Homo sapiens: one gene and its partner. The protein of the gene in region 1 binds, or shares a complex with, the protein of each later gene. Each region holds a gene or a part of one and is shown on either strand. Other genes may lie near its edges. The genes, in order: ARHGEF2 and RHOA.

What was found.
Region 2: the proteins of ARHGEF2 (region 1) and RHOA are in contact, whole or in part, in a crystal structure (PDB 7G9I), measured with the Homo sapiens proteins. Residues at the interface, in NP_001155855.1 of Homo sapiens: Asp215, Ser216, Ser218, Leu219, Asp238, Val239, Glu242, Thr246, His249, Cys342, His345, Ser346, Leu349, Lys353, Lys376, Arg377, Gln381, Glu382, Leu385, Leu386, Thr388, Gln389, Ile391, Thr392, Lys393, Leu396, Leu397, Arg400, Lys423, Leu426; in NP_001300870.1 of Homo sapiens: Arg5, Lys7, Lys27, Gln29, Val33, Tyr34, Val35, Pro36, Thr37, Val38, Phe39, Glu40, Asn41, Tyr42, Val43, Asp45, Glu54, Trp58, Asp59, Ala61, Gly62, Gln63, Tyr66, Asp67, Arg68, Leu69, Leu72, Ser73, Pro75, Asp76.

What each region holds. Positions count from the first base shown.
Region 1 is NC_000001.11:155,975,548-155,983,423, reverse strand, and holds the start of ARHGEF2 (rho guanine nucleotide exchange factor 2), read left to right. Parts: upstream 1-4,876; 5' UTR 4,877-4,996; coding exon 4,997-5,059; intron 5,060-5,248; exon of another isoform or gene 5,249-5,357; intron 5,358-7,876. UniProt on the Homo sapiens protein: Activates Rho-GTPases by promoting the exchange of GDP for GTP.
Region 2 is NC_000003.12:49,405,903-49,416,175, reverse strand, and holds the start of RHOA (transforming protein RhoA isoform 1 precursor), read left to right. Parts: upstream 1-4,199; 5' UTR 4,200-4,356; intron 4,357-9,369; exon of another isoform or gene 9,370-9,464; intron 9,465-10,273. Other genes in the region: TCTA (T-cell leukemia translocation-altered gene protein), read right to left, coding at 1,314-1,356, 3,066-3,120, 3,536-3,749. UniProt on the Homo sapiens protein: Small GTPase which cycles between an active GTP-bound and an inactive GDP-bound state.

The DNA of each region.
Region 1 (7,876 bases):
CTTCCTAAATAGAGGGGCCTGGGAAACTGAAATGCCCACATCCAGGAAGTCCTAGGAGGTCAGGATGGGGGCTTATCTTTCTCTCCCAATCCTTCCTCTTTCTTCCTTCCCATTCTGGCTCTGCTGGTCATGGCACCTTCATCCACCATCTCTCAGGAAGTTATCTTTTTCTTCATTTCCAGCATTACCTCCATCTCCTCATGTCTTCTTTTTCTCTATGCAGCTGCAGCCAGCTGGAAGGACATTCAGGTACCCGGGTAGGCTCCTCCCTGCGACAGACCTTCAGCTTCCTCTCGGGCATGACCGGAAAGGCCAAGGTAGGAGTCAGCTGGGGAAGCAGGAGGCTTGGGACCCACTGCCCTCTCCAGTTCCCTTTCTCCCATCCCACCATCGCCACCTCCCACCACTCCCCCTATTAGAAACTCAGAGCAATGGTTCCATTTTTTATTTTTTTATTTTTTTAAGAGAGGGGGTTTCTGTCTCCCAGGCTGGAGTACAATGGCACAATCATAGCTCACTGCAGCCTCTAACTCTTGGGCCCAGGAAATCCTCTTGCCTTTACCTCCCAAAGTGCAGGGATTACAGGTGTGAGCCACTGTGCCCAGCCAAATGCTTCAAATTTTAAGGAAACACATGCTATCTCTTCCAGCCTGTGTCTCTGTGTCCCAGTAAATCACCTTTTCTCTGCTTTCCCCTACGCATCCAGCTTAGCAGTCAGCTGTGGACAGATGGAAGGGGAAAAGGGCCAGGAACCTCAGAAGCTGAGGAATGGCCTAGCCCTCCCTCTCTTTAGGCCTCACATAGCTGACAGGTGGGCAGCGGAAACCTCAACCATTGGACATAATAATGATAATAATTACAGCACTACTTTTTACTTCTTCATAGAGTATCAGGGTTTGCAAAGTGCTTTTACACTCATAATTTTATGGGTGGGTACAGCAGCTGAAGGAGTTGAAATTAGACCACAGGCAGAGTAGAAGCTGGGAAAGTATATGATTATGGAAGCACATGCATACCCGTACATGTGCGGCCATGTGCTGTTCTGATCCCAGGAAGTGAAGGCACATTGTTCTCATCCTTATTACCAACCGTTGGGCTCTGGTGAAACCGGGAGCTCTGCCTGCTCCTTGAATTTGTTTCCACTTTCTTCATTTACTGTCAGAGTGAGCCGCCCCCCTTTTCCTCCCCTGGCCTCCCCAAGTATGCATGTGCTTTCCAACTCGGGGCGGCTTCTGAGTATTGAAAGAAACCCCAGGGAAATCATCATCATATTCACCTTGAAGAGCCATGAGATTCTCACCAGTAAGGTTGCCTGGGCTCCTCCCAGCCCCACCCGCAGTGCCAGGGTTCTCCCCTCTTCCAGCCTTTTTTTAGCCAAGATTCCCTTTTCTCTGGGTGGGCTGGGAAGGTCAAGATGAAAGCAGGTCATGTTGTTAGCACCTCTCACCACAGGCCATGGGTCGGGAGTTGAGGCTAATGGAGGCATGAGACTGGGTGAGTCTCAGAAGAGGAGCAGCTGGAGAATCTGAAAGCTGATGGGAGGGGAGGGCAGGTGGGACAGAGAGGTTTCTCTCCCATGGGGGAATGGAGATCTCGAAGGAACAAAGCAAAAGCAGAAACCTTGGGGTCTGAGTCTCACCTTCCTACAGGCTGTCTCACTGCAGGGTAGGGGAGTCTGCTAGTGGAATCACTCCCTTTTCTTGCCATGGGAATGGTAGGGGAAGTCAGTACTGCCCAGGGGCCATCCAGATCCCGGTTGGTCTGTTTGTCCACCCTTGACCTAACAGTCTGATGGAGGGTTGAGCAACCTGGTGAAGGGGAATGAGGGCAGAGACTCTGGAGCCCAGATGGGAAAGAGGGAAGCGCCAGAGTGAGTCAGGACATTGCCTCGCTCAGCCTTTCCTCCCCACGTCTGTCATCCTGTCTTCCTCTGTTTCCCTCTCCACCATCTCCTGCTACATCTTCCTTCCACCTTCATGAATGTGTGGGCCTGCTTCACTTAATCTCTTTCTCCATAAGCAGTAAACATCAGGGGGTGGGGCTGGAGAGAAGCTCAGTCAAGCAGTGAGAGAAGGAAGTAGCTTAGTCCCTCCTACTTGAGTAGCATTGCACACTTGATGAAACACTTTCAACTCATTTAATTCTTATAACAATTCTGGCAAAGATAAGTATTTCAATCTCAATTCTACAGACAAATACTTAAAGGTTAGTTACTTTGCCCAAGATCTCACAGCTCATAAGAGGTGGCGCCGTATTAGAAACTCAGGGCTTTGGCTGTGTATTGCCACTGTTTCTCTCAATAGCCGTAACACAACAGTTCATTCCCTCTCATCCTTCCCTTCTTCCAGCTTCTGGCTGGATGGCCACTTAAGGCAATTTGGCCTTAATCACCTCCTCCCAGAATATACAAGGTCCAGACCAATAGAAGAAAGAAGAAAAACAAACCACCTTGGGACAGTGTAGAGCTTGGGCTTGGGTATCCTCGGGAGACCCATCTCTTCTCCAACTGGCCGAGACTTTGGCAACCAGGTTCTTCCCTGGGACCTCCTCCCTACCCCTGAAATGGGAGGGACACATTTCGTCAAGTTAAATGGGCTAAAGAAGGTGATGGCTATTTTTAGATCCTGGTAGAAATGTTTGTTTCTGTGTATCTAAAAAATTATTTCTGAAAATCTGGAAGATATCACTGGATAGGAGTAGAGGGGGCGCTGGAATGAAGAAGGGTCTTGGAAAAGGGGGGCAGGTGACACCAAGGAGAAGGGAAAAGTGTTCATTGTTCAAGAGGATATAGAAAACGGAAACTGAGTCAAGCTGCAGGCCAAGCTCACTAAACACAGGTGTTTTTAAAGGCAGAACACTTTTCTTTTCCCTGTCCCTAGTCCCTTTCCTTGTTATTCATCTCCTAAGGGGAAGAAGAGGGCATAGGGTGAGGGGTAGGGTAACAGCAGGTGGGATGGAAAGTAGACTGAAGGTTGGGGTGGGAGACAGAAAAGAGTTGGAGGGTCGGGTCCTCTTCTTTCATAGAGACCTTCTTAGTTGAGTTGAGGGACCATGAGGTCGCTTGAAAAACCCCAGGGTTCAAATTCTATGTTTCCTGGGTACCCAGGCTGGAGTGTGGCCCTTTAAGATTCTATCCATAGCTTGCAGCACCCTCCTGCCCCAGGCCTGGGAGAGAAGCTGAGGTCCCACCCCAGATCTTGTCTCTGGGCCTCCAGTGGGTGGAACCTTGAGGCCAAGATTCTAGCCTCTGGCTGTCTGTTTTTAAATTTAGTACATTCCTGAGTCTTGGCTGCCCACCTCAGGGGAGGTGAGTCTGGAGTTCTGGGGCCAGGAGCCTCAGGCCTCTTGGTTTGGGGGAGTTCCTACACCCTCCCCGTAGGTATACTTGGCAGGTGCAAGCCAGGAAGAACAAGCTGTGGCCCTGGGGAAGTCCTTCCTGCTTTCTAATGTCCATCCAGCCTGAACTGGGCACGGTTTATTTCCTCTTCCTTTTTCCTGGTCTTTGCTATTTAAGGATTCTAAACAGGGGAATGGGTGAAGAAGGAGGTGAAGGAGTTGCTAGGAAGGAGGGGAAGCCGGAGGGGCAGTGTGGGGGTAGTGCTGGGGGTGAGGAGCCCAACCAGCTCAGCCAGTGGTGAGGTAGTGGAGCCCAAAAATAGTGGCAGAGGCTAAAATTGGCACCTACAAGAGTGCTGAGTTGGGCTTGAAACCTGCAGCCTGGCCCCACTGCTGAGCCAGGGCAGAGAACTGCTGGATCTGGGTTGGGTCTCCCCTCCCTCCCTTCTTCTCCCACGCCCTTTGGGGCCAGAATCAGGCAGGACCCTGCTAACCGAAGGCTCTGTCCCAGGCCTCTCTGTGCTTCTGGTTTCTCCAGAGAAATGGGAGACCCTGAGAGGCAGAAATGAACTTCACTGTAAGTGATCATAGTTAGACTGGAGGAGGAATTTTCCCAATAGCAGGAAACTCACCCAAAGGCTGGCTCAGGCTGGGGAAAAGGGTCCAGAGAGATGAATGCCCCACCTTACCCTGCTTCTTGGGGAGAGGCTGGTTGGGCCCTAACTTTCTTTGACTAGGGCAGGCTGGTTTCTGGTCTTTCAGTTCCGGCTTAACTTGCAACAGAGAGAACTGCAGTTAGACACATGGAAGGCCTTCGGTAAAAGTGGAGAATCCCAACCTAGTCCCCCAAAGTAGCTGGCAGAGGCGGAGCTAGGAGGAGGGCAGAGTGGGGTCAGGAAGGCCCCAGAAGGGTGGGGCATGTGGGAGAATTCTCTCCTCTCTGTTCTTCGACCTCTGGGAGTGAATCCTACCCTTCCCGTGTACTGAAGATCCAGCGTTTAGTTCTCCTTTGATTTCCTCTCCCTCTGGCCACCCCTGCCCCCAATCGTAAAAGGGGTCAGTCTGCTCAGGCCTGCTTTGATGGGACCCCGAAGGCCAGGAAGGAACTGGTCCTGGGTTTTCTAAGAGCTGGGGGCGGATGGAATTCTCCTGCCTGCGGGTCTTTAAAGACTGAGGTAACGCAGTAGGGGAGGGAAAAAGGGAGGGCGAGGGGAGAAGGGAAGAAGGGGAGGGCAGAGGGGAAAGGGCCAACCTGGGTCCGGCGAGGGCTGCGGGGCTGGGTTTTAGGAAAAGAAGAGCTAAGAGGCGGGTCTCTGGGGCTAGAGGGCGCCCCCAGGCGCTGGAGGGGAAATAGGCAGAGGGGCCTCTCAAACCTGTCCTAGGACCCTCGTACCTCTCCGAGCTGCCCCCACACAAACCCTGGCGTCCCGTCCTGCGCGCGGGCACCCCGCCCTCCCTCCGCTCCGCCTACCCCCTTCCTGAGCTTGGGCGGGGGAGGAGACTCGGGTTTGAGGAACTGGTGCTGGGTGCCGGGCGAGGGGAGTCAGACTTCCTGTCCCCGAGACCAACGCGTGCGGGCCGAACCCCTCCCCCCGCCTTCCCCCAACAATACAGGACGCCGGGGTCCGCGCCGCGTCCTCCCTGGTCCCCCCGTCCGATTATGTCTCGGATCGAATCCCTCACGCGGGCGCGGATCGACCGGAGCAGAGAGCTGGCGAGCAAGGTGGGCTCGGAAACCCCTCTCCTTTCGCCGCGGTCCTCGGGTGCTCCCCGAACCCCGGCACCCGCGGTGCATCTCCTGTCTCCCCGCCTGCTTTCTGGGCGCCAAAATCGGGCGGAGCGGTGGATCGGCGAGCGGCGGGACGGGGTGGGTGGGGACTGCGAGCGAGTGGGTAGGGGTGGGGGGAGCGGCAGACGCGACGGTGCTGGGATCCCGGGAGGGAGCGGAGCGGACCTGGGCTTGGTCGCCTCCAAGCCGGCGGGACCGAGTGCTTTAGGCCGCTTGAAAGAAAGTTGCTCCGGTAAGGGACGGAGCGGGAAGAGGGAGGTGTGTGTCTCGCGGGTGGGGGCGGTGGAAGCTCCGGCACCTCCTCTCACCCCGGGCCCCACCGGCTTGGGCTTGGCGTGGCGACCCCCCATCACTCCCCAATCGCTGGCTTGGTCGTTCCCCCTTTGTCCCCGCCATCCGGCGGAGGGGACGGGAGGGGGTGGTTTCCCGGCTTCCTCCCACCACCACCACCACCCCTCCAAGACAAAAGTCAGCTCCTCCTCTCCTCGCAAATGGACTTTCCAGCTGTGATTCAGTTCTCCCCTCTGGGTGGGCGGGTGGCTGGGGTCGGGACGGCCGAGGGACGGCTTACTTCCCCCAAACCATCACCTCTAGGTGAAGGGAGCAGAGGTCTTTGTGTAGCTGGGCTCCTTTCCTCCATCCTGAGCCCTTCTGCCTGGAACATAGGGCCTCCATCCCTATCTGCCCCGCCAGCCTCCTAGCTCTTCCTTCTCCCAACCTGAAACCCTTAGGCTGACACACCTGGCACTATGCATTGTGTTCCCTGCCCTTCCTCCTCCTCCCCCAGCGCTCTCATTCTCTTATCTGCTCGTCTTGGGGTCCCTTCACCTAGCATTTCATGAGTCTGGGTGTATAATTATCCACACGCCTCCCCCATCATGACCTCTTGGCCACTCCTCTCCAAGTACCCTTTATCCCTGCCTTTGTACCCAGCCCCATTCCCAAGTGCCCTGACCTTTCCACACCCAGACCCCAGGAAATGATGAAGCTGACTTGCAGGTGAATAAGTCAGAGCTGAAAGGAAGGTGGTGCCTGCAGACAGCACCTCCCAGCTCCTTTGGGGCCCCCGCACTGTACCCATTATCAGAAAGGACAGGTCCCAGCCCAGAGTTGGTTTAATCTCTGGCTTCTCTCCAACCTGAGTGCCCTACTACCCTGGTGCCAGCCTATGCTGATCACCAACTTCAGCCAAGGGAGCAGTACCCCTTAGGAGTCCTTAAGGGTGATGGAAAGCCCTCCCCTCCACCTCCCTGGTAGTTCCTAGCCAGGCTACCTGTCTTGATGCTAAACTGGGAGAGACAGAGGTTCCATCCTGGGTTGGGGGTGGAGGGCCAGGGAAAGCAGCTTTAAAAGGACTTTCCTTAGGGGGTTGGGATTAGATTTTGCTATCTGGAAAGCAACTGGGGATTCGAGTAGGGCCTAAGACAAACAGAGGGCCGGGGTGAGGTGGCTGAAGTGTGGTGGAACAGTGGGGTGGCAGACAGGCTCTTCACAGCCTGCGCCAGCCCAGGCCCCAGCTCCAAAAGTCTGTTTATTTTTTCAACCGTTTGAGCTGAGACCCTGGAGTAGAGCCAAGGGGGGCGGGGGAGGTTTTTTGAAACCGCAGAAATTTGGTTCCACCCTAAAAAGGAAAGCCATGGGGGAGCTGGTTGGGGGAAGACCTGGCTAGGGGGTATAGAGAGCGGTTCTGTGGGGGCAGGTAGCTACTGGGATCCCTTTTCCATTATTGTGGGGAGCTGGGACGTCAGACATCTGGGTGTTCATGCTCTGTTTTTGTTTTTGTTTTTGGTGGTGGGGGGACTGGCTCTTCTTTCTACTATGGGGGCTGGCTGTGTGGGGCAGGTAATTTGGGAATCTGGCTGGCAGCAGGGAGTCGGGGGCTGAGTGGGTGGATCTGAGAGGGCAAAGAGGCCACCGGAGAAGGGTGGTTGTCAGTTTGGGCCGGTCGGAAGGGGAGGGCCACCTCCGGAAAACTGTGGTTACAGAAGGGGGAGTTGGTTCTTAGCCAACAAACCCTGGATCCCCTCTCCCCCTCCCCCCAGCACACCAGCTGTCTCCTTTCTTTTTATACTGTGGTGGGAAGTAGAGGGGCACCCGCTGGAAAAGACATTATTTGAAGAAGATGGTGTCCCCTGCTACCTCCTTGGGGGGATGGGTCACAGCTAAGCCCTGACACCTCAGCCCCTCCCCATTCCTTGCCTCATTCCCTGGGAGCTCCTCCTAGGAGGAGGAATGTAAGTTTAACCTGCCCCTTTCTCTGTCCCATCCTCACAGGATCTCTCTGTGTAGCCCCCTCCATGCTTCCTTTTTCTTTTCACTCCATTTCTGTTCTCCCAGGCTGTCTTCAGTCCTCCACCTCCTCTGTTCTCTCTGCTCTACTTCCTACCTCCACAAGCCCCAAACCTCACAGGTCCCCTTTCTCTCTTTAGTCCCCTGTTCTTCCCTTTCTCCTTTCCCAAACCCCAACCATCATATCCCTTAGAACAAAGGGTCCTTTTCTGCCAAGCAGGGACCAGAGGTCCAGGGATGGCTGTGGAGGCTGGGGGTCCCCTTGGAATCTCTGTGGTGGGCAGGTGGAGTGGGGAGTGTGCAGAGCGACTATTTCTTTGTTCTGAGGAATGGAGAGGTGGCTGGCTTTGTGTGCAGGACTAGGAGTGCAGTGGAGAGGAGAGCTGGGGGAGCCCAGGAGGGAGCTGAGAGGGCTGACGGTGTTGGAGGAGAGTGGAAGAATGGGGGGTCCTCCTGGTGGCT
Region 2 (10,273 bases), on another chromosome or scaffold:
CAGGTACTGGTGTTTCTATAGGGGCATTTGCCACCCACATCTTTGGAAACTCCCCTGGCCTATTGTGACATGGCAGGGCTGCCTGGTTCTTGAAGGTAGAGAAAATGCTAGTGGGGAGGAGCTGAGCCTGTGACGTGCATTTGTACCAGGTCCAGATGGGAAATGATGAGGCTGCAGGCTATGATGGGGCCACTGTGCACTAAATGCTTGGTACCATCCTATGAGGGGACAAGGTGCAGACCCACATTCCCATAGGCACTTAAGCAGTGGTGGATAGGAGGCTACCCCAGGGGTTCAGCTGTCCTTCAGGTAATCAGCTTACCCCCAAGAAGGACTGAGAGGAATATGAGTAGGACAGTTGGCAGATGACAATTTCCTTTGCCTGGCTCACGGGAGAAGTCTGGTTGGGCCAGGTATGTGGGTGTTTGGTGCCTCCATCTGGATAGTGCCAGCAGGTACACCACCCTGCCTTATACCTGAATGGCCAGCTAAATAACCATAGAGCTTAAGGTCTGGCTCAGGTCAGGATTCCCTGGCTCCTTGCCAACAAAGCAAAACCAGAGATTCAGAAAACTCAGGGCCTAGGAGAAAACAGACCTGCCTTACAAACCCCAGAGCTGGTCAACCTCAGGCTTCCTCTCAGGAAAAAAATTTTTTTTTTGAGATGGGTCTTGCTCTGTTGCCCAGGCTGGAGTACAACGGCGCAATCTTGGCTCACTGCAACCTCTGCCTCCCAGGTTCAAGCAAATCTCCTGCTTCAGCCTCCTGAGTAGCTGGGATTACTGGTGTGTGCCACCACACCCGGCTAATTTTTGTATTTTTAGTAGAGATGGGGTTTTCACCATGTTGGTCAGGCTGGTCTCGAACTCCTGACCTCGTGATCTGCCTGCCTCAGCCTCCCAAAGTGTTGGGATTACAGGCGTGAGCCACCATGCCTGGCCAACTCAGGAAAAATTTTTATGGGGTCACATCTTGGGGATGGAAGAGGGACAGGAAAAGAAACCTAAGACAAAAGAACTGATGGTCTTCCCAACCCAGAGGCTTCCTGAGTTATCACCCCTGAGAGAGGAAGAACACAATCTCTCTCCTTAAGGCACCCAGATAAGAGTACAGGCAAACTCTTCACTTGCCCAGTGCCTGGGTGAGGGAGCAGGCTTAAGAGGCAGAAGAGGCCCAGCCCTGTAGGCACTGGGTACTCCCTGCTACCAACCCTGAACCCCCGGCAGTTGTCCCTGAGGTCTGGGGAGTAGCAGAACCCAGTGTAGAAGCCAGCAGACCCAGTGATGCCCTTGGAGACCCTCTGCTGCCTTCCCTTATTCTCTGTGGGTTTTGAGAGGTTCGTTTGCTGCCATTTCCCTGAAAGTGATGGAGAGAGAGAAGAGAGAGTGGTTATTCCATGGGCAGAACAGTTGCTGAAATTGGCTCTCCCAAGCTCCTTCTTGGGGGCTGAGCTAGGCTCAGTAAGGTCACATAACAATCTAGACCTCTCTGCTGGTCTCCCACAGCCCACCCTGGGCCCAGCACCTTCTCCCTGCAGACTCATTCTTCTTCCTGGTTCTCCATGTTAGTACGGCATTGCCATCCTTCTCTAGTTTTTTTATTCTTTTTATTTATTACTATTGTTATTACTTTTCTTTTTTTGAGACGGAGTTTCACTCTTGTTGCCCAGGTTGGGGTGCAATGGCAAGATCTCAGCTCACTGCAGCCTCCACCTCCCGGGTTCAAGCAATTTTCCTGCCTCAGCCTCCCAAGTAGCTGGGATTACAGGCGCCCGCCACCACACCCAGCTAGTTTTTGTATTTTTAGTGAAGACGGGGTTTCGCCATGTTGGCCAGGCTGGTCTCAAACTCCTGGCCTCAGGTGATCTACCCTCCTCAGTCTCCCAAAGTGCTAGGAACAGGCGTGAGCCACCATGCCCGGCCTGTTATTTTTTTTGAGACAGAGTCTCACTCTGATGCCCAGTCTGGAGTGCAGTGGCGTGATCTGGGCTCACTGCAACCTCTGCCTCCTGGGTTCAAGTGATTCTCATGCCTCAGCCTCCCGAGTAGCTGGGATTACAGGCGTATGCCACCATGCCCAGCTAATTTTTTCTATTTTTAGTAAAGACGGGGTTTCCCTATGTTGGCCAGGCTAGTCTCAAACTCCTGACCTCAAGTGATCCGCCCATCTCAGCCTCCCAAAGTGCTGGGATTACAGGCATGAGCCATGGGGCCTGGCCTCTTCTCTAAGACAGAAACCTGGGCAGTGGCAGCCTTTCTAACCTCTAGCCCTAACTCTTGGACCCCTTTATCTACTTGCCATGAAGTAGGCATTTATAAAGGCAAATTAGATCAGACCACAGCCTTGCTGAGTTAGTCTTTCAATGGCTCCCAGGGTCCAACAAGCTCTCACGTTCAAGCTCCAGCATCACAGTCTTACCTATTCTAATATGTCACCCGTATTCTTCCCTCTTAGCCTTGCTCAATCCATTCCCTTTGCTTGGTACACTTTGTCACCCTGTGGCATTTGATCTCGGCTTAGGTGTCTTTCTTGGGAGAAGCCTTCCCTGACCACCCTTGCCCCATGCACTGCCGCCCTCCCCTAATAAATCCCTGGCTCCCCATGAGCAGGGCCCGGGTTGTCTTTGTTCTCTGGGCCTCGTGTGGCCCCTATCACGTGATAGGGGCCCAGAGATTATCTGAATGAATGCCCTGATTAGTGAGCGCATGTTTTGCAGAAGAGGAGGCTGACCCTGATGAGGTCAATGTGCTCAGGACAGAGATTACTGCCTTCCCAACTGAGGGGATTGTGCAGAGTGGAATCCAACAAACCTGTCATTTCATCTCTCTGAAATTATGACAATACCACCACCTATCCTACAGGCTGCTGAACAGCATGATGATGGACTGTCCAGACCTTGGTGTCACCCTAACTTGAAGCCTGAGCTCTACGTGCAGACTTGAAGCTTGCTGCAAAGGCCATTAAGCTGGTGGGCTTAAAGCCTGAGAACTCCCCTCTCTGTCACCAGCACAGGAGTGTCCTTGGAATGCCAAGCATGGGGTTGCGGTATGGACAGATTTACTCACCACGAAGGGAAATGCGTGGAGCCATCAGGCGTGGATCCATTCTGACCACCCAGACCTGGAGGCAGAAACACATCCAGAGCTGCAGAAGGCTGGGGTGGGAATCTGAGCAGGCATCAGCCCAGGTCAGGTTAGAGACCACTGGTATTGTTTGGTGAAGTCTGGTGAGGGTCCTAAGGGACTAATGGTATTGCCAGGTGAGAGTTCTGAGGAACAGATACAATGTGATGGGTGGACTGGTGGGGATTCTGGCGTAAAATGGTATGGTGGCATGAGTCAGGGCACAACGTTAAGTTCTCCCATCCAAGTACCTGGCTTAGCTTCCGAGGTCAGATGCGTTCAGGGTAGTAAGGCCGTGAACCAATGTTAAGTTCTGATGAGCCTCTTGCAGGATAGTGGGGAACCCAATGGTACAGTCGGGAGAGGGTGGGGGCGGGGGCGGCCAGCCCACGGAGGTTCGTAGGAAGCCTCACCTGGACGGTGATACAACCCGGTCACTGTATTCCCGTAGAACCCCCACGCCAGCTGGATGCCCAGGAGACTTAACACCAACCACAGCAGCAGCAGCTTGAAGAGGGTCACGCGCATGTCCTGCGCCTCCCACTCCCGCAAGAACTCGCTGCCCAGCGCGCCCAGCACCGTGGCCGGCAGAGCCTGCAAGGCCTGCCCAGACCAGGACTCCGCCATGACTGGCCCTCGCCCCACCCGGGGTACTGTCACCGTAGTCCCCACCACGCACGCGTGTGGTCTTCCGGGACCAGGCCCGTTAGTGCGCACGCGTAAACCCAGCCAGGGTGGGGCCTACTTCGCGTGCGTGAAGAGTTGGCAGTTCGGGGAGGAGTATTAAAACCGCGCACGCGCACCTAACCCCACCCTGCTTGCTTAAGGGATGAGTGACTCCGGGAGTACAAAATAGCAACCAGGTCTTTTATAGCCCCGGAGTTCCCGTGATGCCCCACGCGGCTGCAATGATTGGTTAAGGGTTTTGCTTTTAGGGCGTGGACGGGCTCCTGAGCAATAGTGGATGAGCTGTGAGTGCGCGCGCGTGCGCGGGGCCGCGACCTGTGCCGGCTCGAGCCCGCTGGGCACTCGGAGGCGCGCACGTCGTTCCCCGCCCTCCCGCCGCCGCCCGCCCTCGCTCTCTCGCGCTACCCTCCCGCCGCCCGCGGTCCTCCGTCGGTTCTCTCGTTAGTCCACGGTCTGGTCTTCAGCTACCCGCCTTCGTCTCCGAGTTTGCGACTCGCGGACCGGCGTCCCCGGCGCGAAGAGGCTGGACTCGGATTCGTTGCCTGAGGTGAGCGGAAGGGTTCCCTCCAGGCGCCGCGGGGCCCCAGGCCCGCCAGCCCGGTACTCTTCCGGCCGGCAGGCCGCCGCACCGCCGCGGCCGCGCCCCACCGGCTGCTCGTGGCCGAGCCGCCCCTGGCCCCTGACCCTTGACCTGACTCCCAGCCCGGGCCCCGCGCCCCAAGCGGCGACCCCGCCCGCGCAGTCCCCGGAAGCGCGCCCGGTAGTCTCCTGTGCCCCTTCCCCCGCCCGGCCGGGCCTGGTGGAGCCCAGGCTGCCCGCCTGCCCGCCCTCGGTCCCCGGAGCTTCCTCTCCCAGCGGCGCCGGGCAGGGCGGGGGCTTTGGGCCGGGCCCCGCGACCGCGCAGTGTAGCCGGCCGCTGAAAGCGCGCGTGGCTGTCGGAGTTGAAATGGGAAAGAAACTCTTTACAACTCCATTTTGCTTTTTACGTTTAACGAGAAACGACAATCACTGTTTCATATTGATTAAAGTCCAGTTACACTTTGGGTAGGTTTTCTTTTAATGCAGACTTGTTGGAGACTGTGTAAGTAAGTAAAAGATTGTATTGAACGCTTAGGGGTATGATCTACGGCCATACCACCTGGAACGCGCCCGAACTCGTCTGAAAGCTTTGGGGTCTGTTTTGAGTGGAAAAGGGGTATTTTCCATTTGGAAAAAAAAAACAACACACAAAACTGTAAATGATTTAAGCGATGTTGCATGAAAATAGATGCAATGTTGCTTAGTCGAAGTCGCTGTATTGATTAGGAATGATCTAAATATCTGTACCTTAGTTACTGATTGGATCTACAGTTACGGGTCGTCTTCATTGAATAGCGCTATTCGCATCCAAGTTGATTTGTTCACAAACCTTGTTTAGTAGTTTACGGTGGAAAATTGGAATCCTTTTTACCTCAAAGTTGGTTCCACTTGTGTTTTTTAATAGTTCTGATTTTAAATTTTTACCTCTGTTGTTGACTTGTTTGGTTCTGTCTTGAAGAAAGTCTTAAACGTTTCTTGCAGGTGTGTAAGTAGATATTTCACTCTGCCTTTCTGAAGGAGAAAAATTGAAAAACCAAAAAACTTCCATAATTTAAAATGTTGTATGTGGAGAGAATTTTTCAACCACTTAGTATCACCCAGATGTGTAATGTGTACCATGCGGATGATTGTCACCTTAGATGTGGCTAGATTGGCGGAGATACTGTTTTGAGCATTTGGCACAAGTGACATTGGACTGAAAAACTAGTTTTTAATTGTAAAGAATGACTTATTGAAGGATCTCTGGATAACTTGTCTTAATTGGTTCCATCTACTTTTGTGGAGCACTGATGGCTCTTGGGGACATTAAATATATAAGGTGCACCTTGGTTTGAGTTAAAGTCTAGTGCTAGATTTATCCTCTCTGTTCTCATAAAAATCTGTGTTGGAGGGAAGAAGAGAGTAGGAATACTGTGTAGTTCTTGAGTTTTAGATCTAAGAGGAATCTTTCAGGACTGGTTGTCCAACCCCATTTGCAGATGAGCAAACTGAGTCCCAGAGACTTAAGTAAATTTCCCAAGGTTACCTATCTAGTCAGGAGCAGACCAGAACTGTCTGCTCTGTTAAGGTATTCTCCATTTACTCCCAAGCAGTTGGCCTCCAGAGTCAGCTAAAATTCAGGACTTCTAGCTTATTCCATTGTTTCTTCTTTTAAACCTTGTTGATGGTGAATAGTTTGGGAGAAACTGTTCATTTGCCAAAAAATTTCGGTTCATTAGCTTACACAGCACTCTCCCCTTGTTAACTGGATGGTCCTGCCTTCAATTGAGGGAGATAGATGAATGTACGAGGGTCCCTGGTTGGCCTAATCATGGCTTTGTTTGGATTTTTTTTTAAGGGACCAACTTCTAGAGCAAGGCCTACACTTTACTGCTTCAAAACCAAGATATTTAGGTCAGGCTAAGATATTTTTAGTTAACTGTGGGCACTTTTGACTGTTGATTTGGGGTACTGCGTGTATCAAGTAAACAATTCCCTGTGCACATGCATGTGGTGGTGGTGGAGTATTTTCGTAGTCCTGATTTCTTTCCATTTGTCAGTTAACTGCTTTTTAAAAGTTTATTCTGGTCATATGGGGGTGTAAGTTATTAGGAGAGTAAAAACAGGTAGCTCTTCAGGTGTTTCTTGTCCATGGGGTGGAGTCCATGCAGTGACTGGAGAAGGTGCTAGTTTGCGTCTTTTTAATTGTCTTAGAGAGCTGAGAGATATATGTTAACTCTGAGAAGAAAGACTGATCAGCTTCTAAGAGAGCTAATTTGAAGCTGCTGGCCTTCTGTAGACAGCACCTTGGGTTTAATTGCATTGTGGTTACTAGTGATTATGATAAATAGTACATAGTCACTGGATTTTAAAATTGGCCATATAGTTGTAGTTTTATATTTATTTTTATTTTTGAAATGGAGTCTCACTCTGTTGCCCAGGCTGGAGTGCAGTGGCGCGATCTCAGCTCACTGCACCGTCTGCCTCCTGGGTTCAAGTGATTCTCCTGCCTCGGCCCCTGGAGTAGCTGGGACTACAGGCACCCACCACCATTCCTGGCTAACTTTTGTATTTTTAGTAGAGATGGGGTTTCACCGTGTTGGCCAGGCTGGTCTTGAACTCCTGACCTCAGGTGATCCGCCTGCCTTGGCCTCCCAAAGTGCTGGGATTACAAGGGTGAGCCACCACGCCCACCCATATTTGTAGTTTTAAAAGGATCCTGGCAGGGCGCGGTGGTTCATGCCTGTAATCCCAGCACTTTGGGAGGCCGAGGCGGGCGGATCACGAGGTCTGGAGACCATCCTGGCTAACACGGTGAAACCCCGTCTCTACTAAAAATACAAAAAAAATTAGCTGGGTGTGGTGGCGGGCGCCTGTAGTCCCAGCTGCTCTGGAGGCTGAGGCAGGGGAATGGCGTGAACCCGAGAGGCGGAGCTTGCCGTGAGCTGAGATCGCGCCACTGTGCTCCAGCCAGGGCAACAGAGCGAGACTCCGTCTCAAAAAAAAAAAAAAAGGATCTTAAGTATTTTGTCTGACTCTGCCATTTAGTTTATTCCTTTGTTTACCTGCCCAATGGAACTGTTTGCTTGTAACTACACATTAATATAACTAAATTTTGAACTTAATGTTACATGCCTTGCTATACATGGGGCTCTTTGGGGACATGCTCATTTGTGGGATTAAAATTTCCAAGACGGTTTGAAGTTTGTAATTACTATAAAATCCCTCATCTTTAATCTGTGGAGCTGTAGTATTAAGTGAAGGCCTTGGTATGTTCATAATTACGATAGTCATGTGACTGAAAATCAGGCACTGAAGCTGCTCGTTCTGGGTGTTGGTCTCAGTTTATTGATGCTTCATCCAAATACATTTTTATAGCTAATAATAAAGAAAAACATCAAATACTCTTGCTAAATTGCAATCAGTATGCAGTTTATGCCAAACTTAGCTTGATTTTATTTTTTGAAGAGGATGAGTATGTATATTTAAGCATATGTGTGTGTGTGTATATGTATATATACTTGTGTATACGTATATACGTGTATACGTATATATATGTGTACATATACGTGTATACGTATATATATGTGTACATATACGTGTGTGTATGTGTGTGTGTATATATATATATTTTTTTTTTTTTCTCTTTTGAGACTGAGTCTCACTCTGTCGTCCGGGCCAGAGTGCAGTAGCGCCATCTCGGCTCACTGCAACCGCCGCCTCCTAGTTCAAGTGATTCTTGTGCCTCGGCCTCTGGAGTAGTTGGGAGTACCAGCATGCGCCACTGTGCTCAGCTAATTTTTGTATTTTTAGTAGAGACGGGGTTTCACCATGTTGGTCAGGCTGTTCTCGAACTCCTGGCCTTGTGATCTGCCCCCCTTGGCCTCTGAAAGTGTTGAGATTGCAGGTGAGAGCCACTATGTCTGGCCATATTTAAGCATATTTATGATAGTATCTTAAATTTAAGTGAAGGGAAAGAGGAAAACATACACAGCCAATGAAGTAAGTTTGAAGTGGAGTGAAAGGAAAAGTTGGAGGTAAAAAGAGGTTAGAGAGGTGGGCAGGGGCCAAATCATATAGGGCCTTTAGGACATGGGAAATTCTTTGGATTTGTTCTGAGATTAGAAGTCATTTAGATATTCTTTAGAAAGGGAATGACATGATCTGATATTAAAAAAAAAACTAGAATCACTGTGAGTAGGAGTAGATCTAATTCCATTCTGACTAAATAGTAAACTAATATGATAATTTGGACAAATATAAAAAGGAATTCCTGGCTGGGAGCAGTGGCTGATGCCTGTAATCCCAGCACTTTGGAAGTGCTGGGCAGGTGGATCACTTGAGGTCAGGAGTTTGAGACCAGCCTGGCCACATGGTGAAACCCTGTCTCTACTAAAAATACAAAACATTAGCTGGGCGTGGCAGCAGGCGCCTATAATCCCGGCTATTCAGGAGGCTGAGATAGGAGAATCACTTTAACCTGGGAGGCGGAGGTTGCTGTGAGCAGAGATCGAGCCATTGCACTCCAGCCTGGGAGACGGTGCAAGACTCAAAAAAAAAAAAAAAAAAAAAAAAACGGAAAGGATTTCATAATATTAATTTCCTTGACTTAGTGACTTCTGCCTATTTTATTTGAAGTCATTGGTTCTTCTCTTCTCTTCTCTTGAGACAGGGTCTCACTGTCACCCAGGCTGGAGTGCAGTGAGTGATCTTTGTTCACTTCAACCTTTGTTTCCCAGGTTCAAGCGATTCTCGTGCCTCAGTCTCTAGAGTAGCTGGGACTACAGGTGTGTGTGTGTGACCATGCCCGACTAATTTTTGTATTTTTAGTAAAGACGGGATCTCACCATGTTGGCCAGGATGGCCTTGATCTCTTGACCTCGTGACCCCGTGACCCACCCACCTTGGCCTCCCAAGGTGTTGGGATTACAAGCATGAGCCACTAAGGATTTGTTTTTAAAATTTTTTTGCTTTATTTTTTTCTTCTCTTTTTTTGTACTAGAGATGGTGTCTTGCTATGTTGCCCAGACAGATCTTGTACTCCTGGGCTCAAGTTGTCCTCCTGCCTCAGCCTCCCAAAGTGCTGGGATTAAAGATGTGAGTCAAGCGATTCTCGTGCCTCAACCTACCCACTAGCTCGATTACAGGTGCCATCCACCACCTGCCCACCACCCTTGGCTAATTTTTGTATTTTGTATTTTAGTAGAGACAAGAATTTTACCATGTCGGCCAGGCTGGTCTCAAATTCCTGACCTCAGGCAATCCACCCGCCTCAGCTTCCTGCTGGGATTACGGGCGTGAGCTACCCTGGCCAAGATTTTTAATTTCTGAAGCTTATAGCTGCTCTAAAGCACAAGGATTCAGTCCCATGATTTAAAAAAGTTGCTTGTTTTGACTTCAAGTATATGGTTGAGCATTCTAACTTTTGTTATGTATACATTTTTATTTTACTGTATTCTTCTAGCCATTGTATCCTAGTCTGTATGTTGCAGATGAGTTGTGATTCTCTGGTGTCTCTTCCATGGACCTAGAGATCATATGCTCTACTACTGGGATTTTTTTTTGTAACTTTGTTTGGGATATAGGCTTTGAGAGGTTAAGGAAGTAAATTTAAGATGGATATTTAATGTTGTAACACTTTGTTAATGCTTTTTTCTACAAGATAATTTTATTATGTGATATGGCAGCTTTGTTGGAAATACCTGTTTTTTTGTGTGTGTGGAAAATTTCTTTTCTGGATGAAATCTCTTGTTTAACTTTTCCAGTTATTCATAATGAAGCTCTGTTTATCTTTTGAAGATCTTAAGTTCAGAAACAGAAGGCAGGCTGCGTATGGTGGCTCATGCCAGTTATCCCAGCACTTTGGGAGGCCGAGGTGGGTGGGTCACCTGAGGTCAGGAGTTCGA